Homo sapiens: one gene and its partner. The protein of the gene in region 1 interacts with the protein of each later gene in a pairwise test. Each region holds a gene or a part of one and is shown in the gene's direction. Other genes may lie near its edges.

What was found.
Region 2: the proteins of ZDHHC17 (region 1) and SNAP23 interact in binary tests that used the Homo sapiens proteins (3 or more experiments, as listed by UniProt).

Annotation. Positions count from the first base shown.
Region 1 is NC_000012.12:76,844,079-76,851,114, forward strand, and holds part of ZDHHC17 (palmitoyltransferase ZDHHC17), read left to right. Parts: intron 1-1,630; coding exon 1,631-1,724; intron 1,725-2,517; coding exon 2,518-2,601; intron 2,602-4,154; coding exon 4,155-4,312; intron 4,313-5,297; coding exon 5,298-5,392; intron 5,393-6,768; coding exon 6,769-6,907; 3' UTR 6,908-7,036. UniProt on the Homo sapiens protein: Palmitoyltransferase that catalyzes the addition of palmitate onto various protein substrates and is involved in a variety of cellular processes.
Region 2 is NC_000015.10:42,512,598-42,519,633, forward strand, and holds part of SNAP23 (synaptosomal-associated protein 23), read left to right. Parts: intron 1-357; coding exon 358-399; intron 400-801; coding exon 802-850; intron 851-2,639; coding exon 2,640-2,757; intron 2,758-7,036. UniProt on the Homo sapiens protein: Essential component of the high affinity receptor for the general membrane fusion machinery and an important regulator of transport vesicle docking and fusion.

The DNA of each region.
Region 1 (7,036 bases):
AATACACTGCTGTTCTGTGGAAATATACTGTTCCACAAAGTATGCAGTGCTGATGTACTTGCCATATGGCAAACAAATTATATAGTCATTCAATACAGATAGCAGTTTCATTGTCAAATACATATTTGATGGCAAGAATAAGACTAATTTTGTCATCATAGCATAAATGTTTTATTATATATTATTTATAAGCCACATACTTCTTGTTGTAAAGAAGATTTCCTATTATAAAATCTTGCAGATCAGCAGAGGTAGTTGTCATTATATGGGTATGCTTCACTTTGGTAAGTAGACAAGTCCCTAAGGCTTGTAGATCAGAGCTTTCTTAAAAACGAATTACTTTGTTGATTGCACCCCTGCACTCCAGCCTGGGCCACAGAGTGAAACCCTGTCTCAAAAAAAGAAAAAAGAAAGGATTACTTTGTAAGTGATCCAAGGAACCTTGAGACCAAGTCACACCTTAACCAGTTAGTCTGTTTTTCAGATTTTTGACAGTGTTGCAGCTGAGGGTTGGAAGTGGGGATAGAAGTTGTTTGAATATCCTGCTGCCTTCTCCTAAGTAGATTTAGTCTAACAACTGTGGTGAAGAATAACTTACCCTTTTCTTTATTCCACAGATAATTTTGGTAGATGTAAGAACTGTGTATTCACTGTGCCTTTTCCTTGGTACCTCAAAATAGTGTGTAACTTTATGCAAACTAATGGAGAAATGGCAGTGCTTTTGTTGAAACGCTGAAGTATATTTATAAATTTTTTTCTGGCAAGAGTTAATAACTGCAGCTCTTTTATCATATGTCTAGCATTAGGACTGCCAGCCCTTTGAAGATCACCAATGAGTTCTTGTATTCACTTGGCTGATTTAGAGTAATGTAGGTTTTAAAAACCATTTCAAAATGCTTGAAAAACAGACATCATAAGCATGGATTCTTTATTGCCTGTCAATAGCTGAATAATGAATTATATGGGGTTTTTTTTTTTGCAAGAAATAGTGACTTCTTAAGCATGTTCTGCATTCTTAAATATGGTCATTTCAGCAGGAGAAATGCTGTACCTTAATCTGAGATCTCAGAAGGCACTTTACTGAAGAGAAATAGATGTGTACATATGGGTTTTTGCTGGATTTGTTAATTTGGGGAAGACAAATATTTTATTGATGATTTTGAATTTTAAGAGCTTTTTAAATTCACTTTTAGCCTGACCTTCCTAGTAAGGAATAATTTTATTTTATTGAAAAACACCAATATCATGACCATTAATCATAATGGAACATCATTTAGAAGACTGGAGATTGATATGTTTTTATTACTCAGAAATTTGAGGGATGTGAATTAAACATAGCATCATTCATCAAATCAAATTGGTAATTCTTAGCTTTTGTAAATTGATGGTTCAGTTCCATTCTTAAGAGCATATTTTCTAGAGTAGCCTCATTCTTTTATTCTTTGTTTTTGCAGTTGAAATTTTATTAAACAATAGTGACTTTTGGTTTCATTCATTTGGAAACCTTGATATAATCTTGTTTAAAAAATATAGTTTTATTTTTTTATAATTATATTTTGAGAAAATAAATAGTCAGCTTTTCTCTCTTAGTATAATGCCTTTCATAATCCTTTAACATGCCTATTAACAGATACGAAAACCGGTGAGGTCCAAACATTGTGGTGTGTGCAACCGCTGTATAGCAAAATTTGATCATCATTGCCCATGGGTGGGTAACTGTGTAGGTAAGTTGTATTAGTAATTTCTTCTGTATCATTCATTTAAGTTACTTTAGGTAATGAATAAAGTATAATATTAAAGTAGGCAATAGAAAGTTTATTACTCCACGCTTCATTTTCTCAGTTATCTTCTGGTTGACAACACAGCAACTCAGTTGAGAGAGGGAGGGAAAAAAATTACAAAATTAGTGGCTGATACCTTTTCTCTGTCAGTTCTATCTGGTGCCTACTCTTGATAAGGAGGCAAAATTTTTTTTTTCTAGTTAAACTAGAGAGATGAAGGCGGTAATATTTGAAATGATATTATGTGCAGAGGTAGAGAGGAATGACAGATAAGAACAGTACACACATTAGTGTTCAAGAATGGTATAGTCTAAGGAGAGAAACTACATGGTTTGAGACATGCCCCGGAGATTTTATGAGGTGACAGGAAACATTACAAAGATTGTTTACCTCTGTTGAAGAGAAACCTTTGGATTGTAAAGTTTATAAAAGTAAAGATAAAATAGGGCTATTTTAAACCTCACAAAGAATAGGATTAGAGGTCAGAATTGTGATTTATTTAGTTCTTTGGGACTTGAACACCATTGTCATCATTATATCTTTGTGTGTAATTGCAAGCATTCTTATTTAAGATTTTTATTAAAACATTTTTCCTGAAAACCACTTTATAAAATAATGAATGTATGTGTGATTATCATCAAAACTGTAGCACACCTTTCATGGCATACCCCTCAAAGGTGCATTACCCGTTGTTTTTTTCTTAGCTGAAAAACCTTGCTTCTGTGTCGTTCTTCAGGTGCAGGCAACCATAGATATTTTATGGGCTACCTATTCTTCTTGCTTTTTATGATCTGCTGGATGATTTATGGTTGTATATCTTGTGAGTACAATTAGTTTTCGGTCTTTTTAAAACAAATTTCTGCATACTTAGATTATACTTACCACACTAACAAATTACTATAATGACAAAGGTCGTTTAACTAAAATTATGGTTTGGACACCTTATGAAGCACAAAAGGGAAAAAAGATACAGCTCTATCAATTATGTCCAATATACAGTGTAAGCAAACAGTTAGCAGTTAACCACCTTTTAATACTTGTGTCCTCTGAAAAACATATTGGTTTAATAGGCTTTGAGAAGCTTCTGGGTGAAATACATCAACATTTTCCACATCATGTGCTTGCTTTACTATAGTAGCTTATAGATTAAGTGATTGTCTTAGTTCTGTTTCTTACCAAGCAGTTGGGAAAATATACTTAAAATTAAATTTGCAGAGAATTTGAAATATTTTGAAAAGTAAGGTATAATTATTGCCTATTAGAGAATATTAGTAAATATCAGAAGTTACCTTTTTAAGAATAAGTTGTTATTCCATCATGTGGGTTTTATACCTTAAAGGAAATGATAGATTTTTGTTGCATTGAGAATGCAGTCTGGAAAGAGTTTAAGTGGATACGTCACTTACGATGCCTCAGGGCTTGGTGGTGCTTGGCATAAAGATGTATTAGATCCTCGTTTAAATACAAGTCTTGGAAGGATGATTTTCTAGTCTTCCTGCCCCACAGATAGTAAAAATAATCAGTGTTATTGCCCTAATGAACCAAAGGAGGTTACCACCTCAGTTAAAGATTAATAGGAAGATTTGGTCAAAGAACTTGACCTAATTTCTGGCCCAGCACACCTGAGGAGAATACTTTCTTGCCAACAACAGCAGTATTTTATAGCAACTCTCCTACAGCAGGAGATTTTGTATTAGGAAAGGCCTACCTTGGCTGGGCATGGTGGCTCATTGCCTATAATCCCAAAACTTTGGGAGGCAGAGGCAGGTGGGCCAGTTGAGGCCAGGAGTTTGAGACCAGCCTGGGCAACGTAGGAAGAGAGACCCCATCTCTACAAAAAATACAAAAATTAGCCCGGTGTGGTAGCGCATGCCTGTAGTCCCAGCTACTCAGGTGGCTGAGGTGGGAGGATTGCTTGGGTCCAGGAGGTCGAGGTTGCAGTGAGCCTTGATTGAGCCACTGCACTCCAGCCTGGGTGACAGAGCGAGACCTTGTCTGGAAAAAAAAGCTCATGTCACCATCCTATTATGTTATATGCCCTCTTTCAAAAAAATCTCTTTCATATATCCTCTCATCTTTGTGTAAAGAAAATGTTTTTCTAAGTATTATGTGATGCAATACCAATCAAATAAAATTGTTAATTCTGAAGATACAGTGATTTTTTTTTAAGATTGGCTGCTCCTTTTCCATTTCTGTGTTTTTTCACTGAGATATAATAGGGTTATTTAAGAGTATAAAGACATTTGCTATTGAATGTCATCAGTTAAATCTAGACTGTTTGACTATGTTTTCTAAATGGTGCCAGCACAAATGCCTATATGAGGTGCTTGGATGATTATTGAGTAAATACGAGTACTTCTGTTCTGGCTTTAGACTGGGGACTCCACTGTGAGACCACTTACACCAAGGATGGATTTTGGACATACATTACTCAGATTGCCACGTGTTCACCTTGGATGTTTTGGATGTTCCTGAACAGTGTTTTCCACTTCATGTGGGTGGCTGTATTACTCATGTGTCAGATGTACCAGGTATGTGCAAAGGCATTCTTTTTAGTGCACTAAGTGAAAACTCTTCCATCCTTGCATAAAAGATAATAATATATTCTCTTCCTAACCACTCCTGCTCTTCAAATATTCATTTTATTTTTCAATTTAGTTTTCCTTTCTACCTCACTCTTTTGCCCCTTCCTCTTCTCATATTGTGAACTTTTGAATTTTAGTACTTATCTCAACAGAAATTTTAATCTGTTATTCCTGACTTAAATACATCCAGTTGAGTATGTGTGAGCTCAGATTGATGATGACATTAATTTTGTGTTTTTAATGGTATTTTTATTCACAAATACTAATATTTATTCAAAAGCCTTTTTTTAATTTTTAAAAGCTCATTCTCAGAGAGGCTGATAGGGAGGTTGTCTGTGCAGGAATAGCGCCTGTCCATGCACAGTGTCAAGTAACCTGTCTTTAAATATTTTCCACATTTAACTGGCTACTTTTCACAGTCAAATGATACCACGTAAACTAGTTCTGATGATCTCCTGATGGAAAACCAAAAACAGACTTCATTGTTTTTATCTTTATCCTAGTTTTCTTCAAATTAATTTTTTTATATTAAGTATTTAGAAAGAATAATGGTTTGTGCAGCCTGGCATGGTGGCTCACACCTGTAATCCCAGCACTTGGAAGCCGAGGTGGGCGGATCACTTGAGCCCAGGAGTTTGAGATCAGCCTGGGCAACATGGTTAAACCCTATCTCTAAAAAAAAAAAAAAAAAAAAAAACCCAACAAAAAAAAGAAAATTAGCCGGGCATGGTGCATGCGCCTGTAATCCCAGCTGCTGGTGGGGTGGGGGTTTTGGGGTGGGGGGAGGTGGCGGGGGTGGAATCACTTGAGCCCACCCAAGAGGGAGCTGAGAATTCGCCATTGCATTTTAGCCTGGGTGACAGGGCAAGGTCCTGTCTCAAAAAAAAAAAAAAAAAACAAGAATAATGGTTTGCTTTTTCTTTCCTCTTAGATATCATGTTTAGGTATTACTACAAATGAAAGAATGAATGCCAGGAGATACAAGCACTTTAAAGTCACAACAACGTCTATTGAAAGCCCATTCAAGTATGTACATATTTATAAATTTAATATTTTACCTGGTCATAAAAATTTTCTTACTAACCAGACTCTTTTACTTAGTGATATGTAAAATAGCTTTTAAACCTTTTTAAGATTTCTGTAGAAATAGCATCAGTTCACCATAATAACAACAAAACAGAATTCATCACATTAACTGTATATAATAAAGTTGTGATATCTCCTTATATTTTTTTCTTTTTAATTTTAAATTTGTATTCAGTCTGGTGCTTAGAAATAGTAGGGTCCTAAGTATATGAAATATTTAAAACTTTGAGTTTTACTGAAGTTATTACCAACTCTTCAGCTTTTGTGGTGCTGTCAATTATGGCATACTTCTGGAAAGCAAGCAGACCTTTAAATAAAAACAGAGTTAGTTGGGTAGTTTTGAGAATTCTCCCATAGGTACAAAAATTATATAAGGCACAAAACTGACTGCTTTTCTTTTCTTTTTTTTAGACAGAGTCTTGCTCTGTCACCCAGGCTGGAGTGCAGTGGCATGATCTCGGCTCACTGCTACCTCCACCTCCTGGGTTTAAGCACTTCTCTGCCTCAGCCTCCTGAGTAGCTGGGATTACAGGCATGCACCACGCCCAGCTAGTTTTTGTATTTTTAGTAGAGATGGGGTTTCACCATCTTGGCCAGGCTGGTCCTGAACTCCTGACCTCATGATCCACCCGCCTCGGCCTCCCAAAGTGCTAGGATTACTTACCGACGTGAACCACTGGTGCGCACCTGGCCAAAACTGACTGCTTTTCTAAAGGTGTTACTGGAGTACTAAAATTTCATGAACTTATCCTTGACATTTCTTTTTTAAGTTGTTATCCTTAGGTTCACTGCCAGATTCATGCTATTTATAATTATTTTGTCTTTTACTTTTTTTCTGTTTTAGAGATAGTTTGTCTCCTGCCAAAGAGCCACTAATTAAAGGTTTTTATCAAAAATTACATATGGAGCCAGGCATGTTGGTGCATGTCTGTAGTCCTAGCTACTTGGGAGGCTGAGGTGAGAGGATTGCTTGAGCCCAGAGTTCGAGGCCAGGCCGGGCAACATAGTTAAGACCTCATCTCTAAAAATAAAAATAAAAATGCATATAACACAGAAAGTATATGCACATTTGAATAAATTTAAAATATAATTGTGTAAGTCTTTAAATTGGCAAAAGAAAAAATCATTGTTGGCAGAGCAGTGGAGAAACATGAAGGCATATATATTTTATAGAGTTATGAATTGGTTCCTTCTTGCAAGTAACCTGAGTTTTTAAGTTTAGAAAAAAATATATTTAACACGAAAATTATATTGAATTCATGTATTAAATCATTTGTACTGACTGACGTGTTTTCTTTTTGGGGTGCTGTTTTTAGCCATGGATGTGTAAGAAATATTATAGACTTCTTTGAATTTCGATGCTGTGGCCTCTTTCGTCCTGTTATCGTGGACTGGACCAGGCAGTATACAATAGAATATGACCAAATATCAGGATCTGGGTACCAGCTGGTGTAGCGACATCTTATCCTATGAAGCATATTGCTGAGTGGTGCCTGAAAATTGTGTCTGTCCGTGTCTTTCTCACACTCGAATCCACATCCTTTGAACAAGAGCATGCTATGTGTAGGGCTAATGGTGAATTTT
Region 2 (7,036 bases), on another chromosome or scaffold:
CAAACTTCTGACCTCGTGATCCGCCCACCTCAGCCTCCCAAAGTGCTGGGATTATAGGCTTGAACCACCACACCCGGCCATTGTTTTGTTTTAAAGGGAAGGATAGGCTGGCAATTCTTTTTGTTTTTTCCTTTAATGGAAACAGTCTCACTATGTTGTCTGGGCTGGTCTTGAGCTCCGGTACTCAAGAAATCCTCCTGCCTCGGCCTCCCAAAGTGCTGGGATTATAGGCATGAGCCACTGTGCCCGGCCTGAGCTGGCAATTTTTAAAGATAGAATAGCATCATGAATTTGGCCTGTGATCAGATTTTTTTTTCTACATATTTTGGAATGCTAAAATTCTGTGTTCTTTCCTAGTCTCTGGAAAGTACGAGGAGAATCCTGGGTTTAGCCATTGAGGTAAGAAAATGTTAGTCATCAACTTAAGTATAGAAATTTATAGGAGCGATCCTAATACTTCTGGCTGGAATTAGTATTAAAGGGTAATGTATCAATATGCTTTATTATTTGAAATTAACAGTTGCTGAAATGTCAAACCATGCACTAATGGGAATTTTCTGTTTTTCCCTTTAACAGTATTGGAATATGACAGGGAAGATGAATTCACTATGAGTTTGTGACTTAATTATTTTGGGGGCTGCTATGTTAAAGTGTGTTAGTTTAAGAATACTAGTTCTGTCTGTAGCTCTAATCCTCTGAGAGCTTGGGTTTCTAAATTATTCTGTGTTGCTCTTGTAGGTTTTGTTTCTGTTGTTTTTGGTTTGTTTTGTTGTACTATCAGCTTTTCCCCCCTTGTCTTAGTCTCAGGATGCAGGAATCAAGACCATCACTATGCTGGATGAACAAAAGGGTAAGTTAAATTATTAGCAGAAATTCTTAATTTGACTGTGATGCCAAAAAGCCCTATCAAATTAGCCACATACAAATTTCAGCCTTTGGGAGAGCCTTCCCTTTGTAAAATAAGAATGTTATGTTTACTTCTTGTCTTCTGATTTGAATTATATATCATGTTCACTGTCTATTTGGGATGGCAGGCAACAATGCCCAATTGTATATACCAAGTATGTGTTAGGCCAGCATGGCTTATTTTGTGTATTGGTTATATGTGCCTTAGACATTATGATAGTAACATAGCTGGGATTACAGGCACCTGCCACCACACCCAACTATGTTTTTCTTTTTTTTTGGGGTGGGGGACGGAGTTTCGCTATTTTTGTCTAGTTTTGGGGGTGGGGGATGAAGTTTCGCTCTTCTTGCCCAGGCTGGAGTGCAATGGCGTGATCTTGGCTCACTGCAACCTCCTCCTCCTGGGTTCAAGTGATTCTCCTGCCTCAGCTTCCTGAGTAGCTGAGATTACTGGTGCCCACCACCACACCCGGCTAAGTTTTTGTATTTTTAGTAGAGACGGGGTTTTACCATGTTGGCCAGGCTGGTCTCGAACTCCTAACCTCAGGTGATCCACCCGCCTTGACCTCCCAAAGTGCTGGGATTACAGGTGTGAGCCACCGTGCCGGGCCTTTTGTTTTGTTTTGTTTTGTTTTTTTAATTTTTATTTTTTGAGTCGGAGTCTTACTCTGTCACCCAGGCTCGAGTGCAGTGGTGCAATCGTGGCTTACTCCAGGATCCTCTACCTCCCACGTTCAAGTGATTCTCCTGGCTCAGCCTCCTGAGTTGCTGGGATTACAGGTGTCCACCACCACACCCAGCTAATTTTTTGTGTTTTTAGTAGAGATAGGGTTTCACCATGTTGGCCAGGTTGATGTCGAACTCTTGACTTCAAGAGTCACTTGATCCGCCCACGTCGGCCTCCCGAAGTGCTGGGATTATAGGCGTGAGCCACCGTGTCTGGCCAGACATTGTGATATTCTTACATCATCCTCAGAAATCAAGTTCTAAAACAGATCTAGATTCAGGTATGCTTGGAAACACTTGAGTTGAGTTGGCCCTGAGTAATCAGGTCTAGTTTTTATTACTCTTATAATAGCCCTCAGGTTTTGAACCTATTATAGAAATGATGGGGATTTGACCTCGTCAAAGTACCCTTAACTTGGTTGTAAGGATGATCTCTAAATAACCGTCCCTTGGTCCTACTATACAAGATTCTTTTTTTTTTTTTTTTTTTCGAGCGGGAGTCCCACTCTGTCATCCAGGCTGGAGTTCAGTGGTGCAATCGCAGCTCACTGCAACCTCCAACTGCCGGGTTCAAGCAATTCTCCTGCCTCAGCCTCCCAGGTAGCTAGGATTACGGCACCCATCACCACACCCAGCTAATTTTTGTATTTTTAGTAGAGATGGGGTTTCACCATGTTGGCCAGGCTGGTCTTGAATTCCTGACCTCAGGTCATCGCCCACCTCGGCCTCCCAAAGTGCTGGGATCACAGGCGTGAGCCACCATACCCAGCCATATACAAGCTTTTTAGAACAAATTTTTCCACAGCAAGAGGCTAGGTGCCTCCGGATCAGTACGTGAAAGATTGTTATCATGTTGAATCGCTTCTAATACCTTTTGACACTGACATACTCACTGTGGGGAGTTATTGGTAGATTCAAGGTTGAAGTTTGCTGTTCCATAATAATAGCATTTTCTGGTTGACACTGTGAATGGAACACAAAGTGTTAACTTCACAACTTATTCTTAGAACAACTAAACCGCATAGAAGAAGGCTTGGACCAAATAAATAAGGACATGAGAGAGACAGAGAAGACTTTAACAGAACTCAACAAATGCTGTGGCCTTTGTGTCTGCCCATGTAATAGGTGAGTTGATAAATTAAGATGGTTTCAAAATAAGTAATGAGAGTACCCCACCTTCTCCCACCAGCTAAGGTCAGAAGTATGACTGGGCTTAATGAGGAACTCTATTAGATAAATCTAAGTTGTCTCTCCTTCAGGCAGATTAAGCTTTTTGTGTAAATACTGCGTGTTCACTGAAAACTGTGACTTACATTTGACCAATCCTGGGATCAAGTCCAATTTCAATTTGTAGTAATACATGAAAAGGTTAGGAAGTATAGGGAAATGTATATCTGGATGATGGAAAGCAGGATGGAGTTATTTTCTTTTCCTTTCAAAGGAGGAGTATTAACAAAATATATATTTTGTGGTAGGCACATGAGGGATGGCCAAAAGAGTAGAAGAGTTGGGAAAGAATGGCAAAACATAAAAAATACATAAATCTAATGTTAGATTATATGATAGTGAGCAAGGCTAAATCTAATGTTAGATTATATGATAGTGACCAAGGCTAGGTATACAGAACTGATAAAGGTTGGGTTGGAGAGCATCTTATAGAAGAGGTAGGATGTGGATTGGGCTTTGAGTGATAAGAAGGATTTGGATGAACAGGGAGGAACAGTGAGGGCATTTCCTATGAAAGGTTCAAAATAAAGATTAACAAGGAGCTTGACTTAACTGAGCTGTGTGACTCATGTAGATGAGAAGTGGAAAGTAAGATATAAGTAGGTAGTAGAGGAACTTGAATGCCAAACTAAGGAGTTGACAGATTGGAGTGGAGTATAAAAAGAAACGACAGTATCTGGAGATTGAATGACTGTACTCACTGCTGAAAGTTTTGTTTTGTTTTTTTTCTGAGACAGGGTCTCTGTTACTGAGGCTGGAATGCAGTGGCGTGATCACAGCTCACTGCAGCCTCTCTTTCCTGGGCACAAGAGATCCTCCCACCTTGGCCTCCCAAAGTGCTAGGATTACAGGCATGAGCCACTGCACACAGCCAAAGTATCCTTTTTTTTTTGAGACGGAGTCTCACTCTGTTACCAGGCTGGAATGCAGTGGCGCAGTCTCAGCTCACTGCAACCTCCGTCTCCTGGGTTCAAGTGATTTCTCCTGCCTCAGCCTCCCGAGTAGCTGGGACTACAGGCGCATGCCACCACACCCAGCTAATTTTTGTATTTTTAGTAGAGACGGGGTTTCACTATGTTGGCCAGGATGGTCTTGATCTCTTGACCTCATGATCCGCCCGCCTTAACCTCCTCAAGTGCTGGGATTACAGGTGTGAGCCACCACACCCGGCCTCAATGTATTCATTTTTAAAGAGGTTCTTAGACATTAATATTTCATCCAGTTCTCAGCTGGTCTTGTAAACCAACAGCGGTTATATTTTTATATTTTCAGTAAGTGTTTTTATGAAACAACATTTTTATGCCATTTCTGTTATAGAAAGTAGAGATTAATTGCTTGTCAGTCAACTTTAGTGTTTGTTTTGGCCATGAGGAAAGGTTTGACAGTGTTCTTCCTAGTCTTATCCATTGGCTTCCTATTCTAACACAAGTCTGTTGACCTGTTTACACCTTGGTTGACCAACTGAAAGTTCTGTATTTTTTGAGACGGAGTCTCGCTCTGTCACCCAGGCTGGAGTGCAGTGGTGTGATCTCGGCTCACTGCAACTTCCACCTCACGGGTTCAAGTGATTCTCCTGCCTCAGCCTCCCAAGTAGCTGGGATTACAAATATGTGCCACCATACTCAGCTAATTTTTATATTTTTAGTAGAGACAGGGTTTCGCCGTGTTGGCCAGGCTGGTCTCAAACTCCTAACCTCAGGTGATCTGCCCGCCTCTGCCTCCCAAAGTGCGGGGATTACATGCGTGAGCCACTGCTCCCGGCCAAAAGTTCATATTTTAATAACTATGACTTGTCAATCAGAGTTTAGCAGATTACTTTAAGCAAACAAGTTAAAATGTACAGATTATTTGATACAAACTCTTAGCTATGTTTTACAAACATAATTGTACCTTTCTCTTGTGTTCCATGTACCTTCTTGGAAGAGTACAGAAGAGAGGAAGTAGATGAATTTTCTTGAGATCAGATGTTAGGAGAACAAGGAGAAAGAAGTCTCCCCTAAAATCTTAGAGGAAGATCAGCTCTAAGTCACGTGTTGATAAATAGGAAGAGCACTGAATTAGACCTAAGATGGTCTAATATCATAGAAAGTGGGAAATGCAGCTACAGAGTATTAATTTTATGTCTCTTTGTGTATCCCAGCCAAGCATAGGCAAGCTTTTCTTGAAGACTGGTGGGAAACAAGGTAGGGTATGGTCCTGAATCAGCATTCTTCAGCCTCTAACCTCAGTAGAACCCTTTCTCAGTGGATCAAGAGAAGGCATTACTTTTTTAGAGATGGCCTCTCCCTCTGTCTCCCGGGCTTGAATGCAGTGGTGCCACCATAGCTCACTGTAGCCTCAAACATCTGGGCTCAAGCAATCCACCCACATCAGCCTCCCAAGTAGCTAGGATTACAGGTGTGTGCCACCATGCCCAGCTAATTTTTGAAATTTTTTGTAGAGACAGGGGTCTTGCTATGTTGCCCAGGCTTGTATCAAACTCCTGGCCTCAAGAAATCCTCCCACTTCAGCCTCCCAAAGCACTGGGATTACAGGCTTAAGCCACTGCACCCAACTGGCACTTCTTTCTTTTTTTTTTTCTGGCACTTCTTGAGAGATGGAATCAAGGGGCTGCTGTAACAAAACAGTTCCCTTAAGAGAAGAAAGTATTATCTCAGTTAAAGATGTCTGATTGTAATTGTCTTTCTTCCACCTATTTCTTTCTTACACCATTGAGACCTTGGCCAGTATGATATCTCTTATCCTCAGCTCTGTTCCTATCATTCTTGCCTGTGTCTTGATCTTTCTAATCTGCTAGTCTGTGTTTCAGTTAGGCTCGTCACATGAATAACCATAACATGAGCTTCTTAAAGGTAGACATGAGATCTTAGTCCTATGTGTAAGGCCTAGTCTTCATACCAGCAGTAGCAGTAACAACCCAGGTCAGGTCCAGAGTTCCTTATTTGCCATTTGGAAATACTTTTTCTTTTCTTTCTCTTTTTTTTTTTTTTTTTTCTCGAGACAGGGTCTCGCTCTGTTACCCAGGCTGGAGTGCAGTGGCAGTCATGGCTCACTGCAGCCTCAACCTATCCTCCAGCGTCAGCCTCCTGAGTAGCTGGGATTACAGGCACATGCCACCACACCCAGCTAATTTTGTATCTTTTGTAGAGACAAGGTTTCACCATGTTGGCCAGGCTGGTCTTGAACCCTTGGGCTCAGGCAGTCTACCCACCTTGGCCTCCAGAAGTGCTGGGATTGCAGGCATGAGCCATTAAGCCCTGCTGGCCATTCAGAAATCTAAAAAACTCCTAAAGTTTTGTTTTATTTTTGCTGTAATGGTGCCACAACTCATTAGGGTATAAAATGTAACCTGAACTGAAGCTATGTTTAGTCTTTATTACTTGCTGTAGATATTAATTGGTTTCACTACAGAAATACTCTTTTTGAGTCAGGGTCTCACTCTGTCACCCAGGTTGGAGTACAGTGGTATGATCTTGGCTCACTGCAGCCTCGACCTCCTAGGTTCAAGTGATCCCCCCACCTCAGCCTCATGAGTAGCTGGGACTACAGGTGCATGTCACCATGCCTGGTTTGTTTTTAAAAACTTTTGTTTCTTCTTCTTTTTTTTTTTTTTTTTGAGACGGAGTCTCACTCTGTTGCCCAGGCTAGAGTGCAGTGATGCAGTCTCAGTTCACTGCAACCTCTGCCTCCTAGGTTCAACCGATTCTCCTGCCTCAGCCTCCCAAATAGCTGGGATTACTGGTGCCTGCCACCACGCCCAGCTAATTTTTGTATTTTTAGTAGAGATGGGGGTTCACCATGTTGGCCAGGCTGGTCTTGAACTCCTGACCTCAGGTGATCCGCCTGCCTCGGCCTCCCAAAGTGCTGGGATTACAAGCATGAGCCACCATGCCTGACCCTGTTTCTTTTCTTTTCTTTTTCTTTTTTTTTTTTGAGACAGAGTTTTACGTTGTCACCCAGACTGGAGTGCAGTGGTACAATCTCGGCTCACTGCAACCTTCGCTTCCTGGGTTCAATCGATTCTCATGCCTCAACCACCCAAGTAGCTGGGATTAGAGGCATGCACCAACACCTTGCTAACTAATGTATTTTTAGTAGAGACGGGGTTTTGCCATGTTGGCCAGGATGGTCTTGAACTCCTGACCTCAAGTGATCCACCCACCTCGGCCTCCCAACG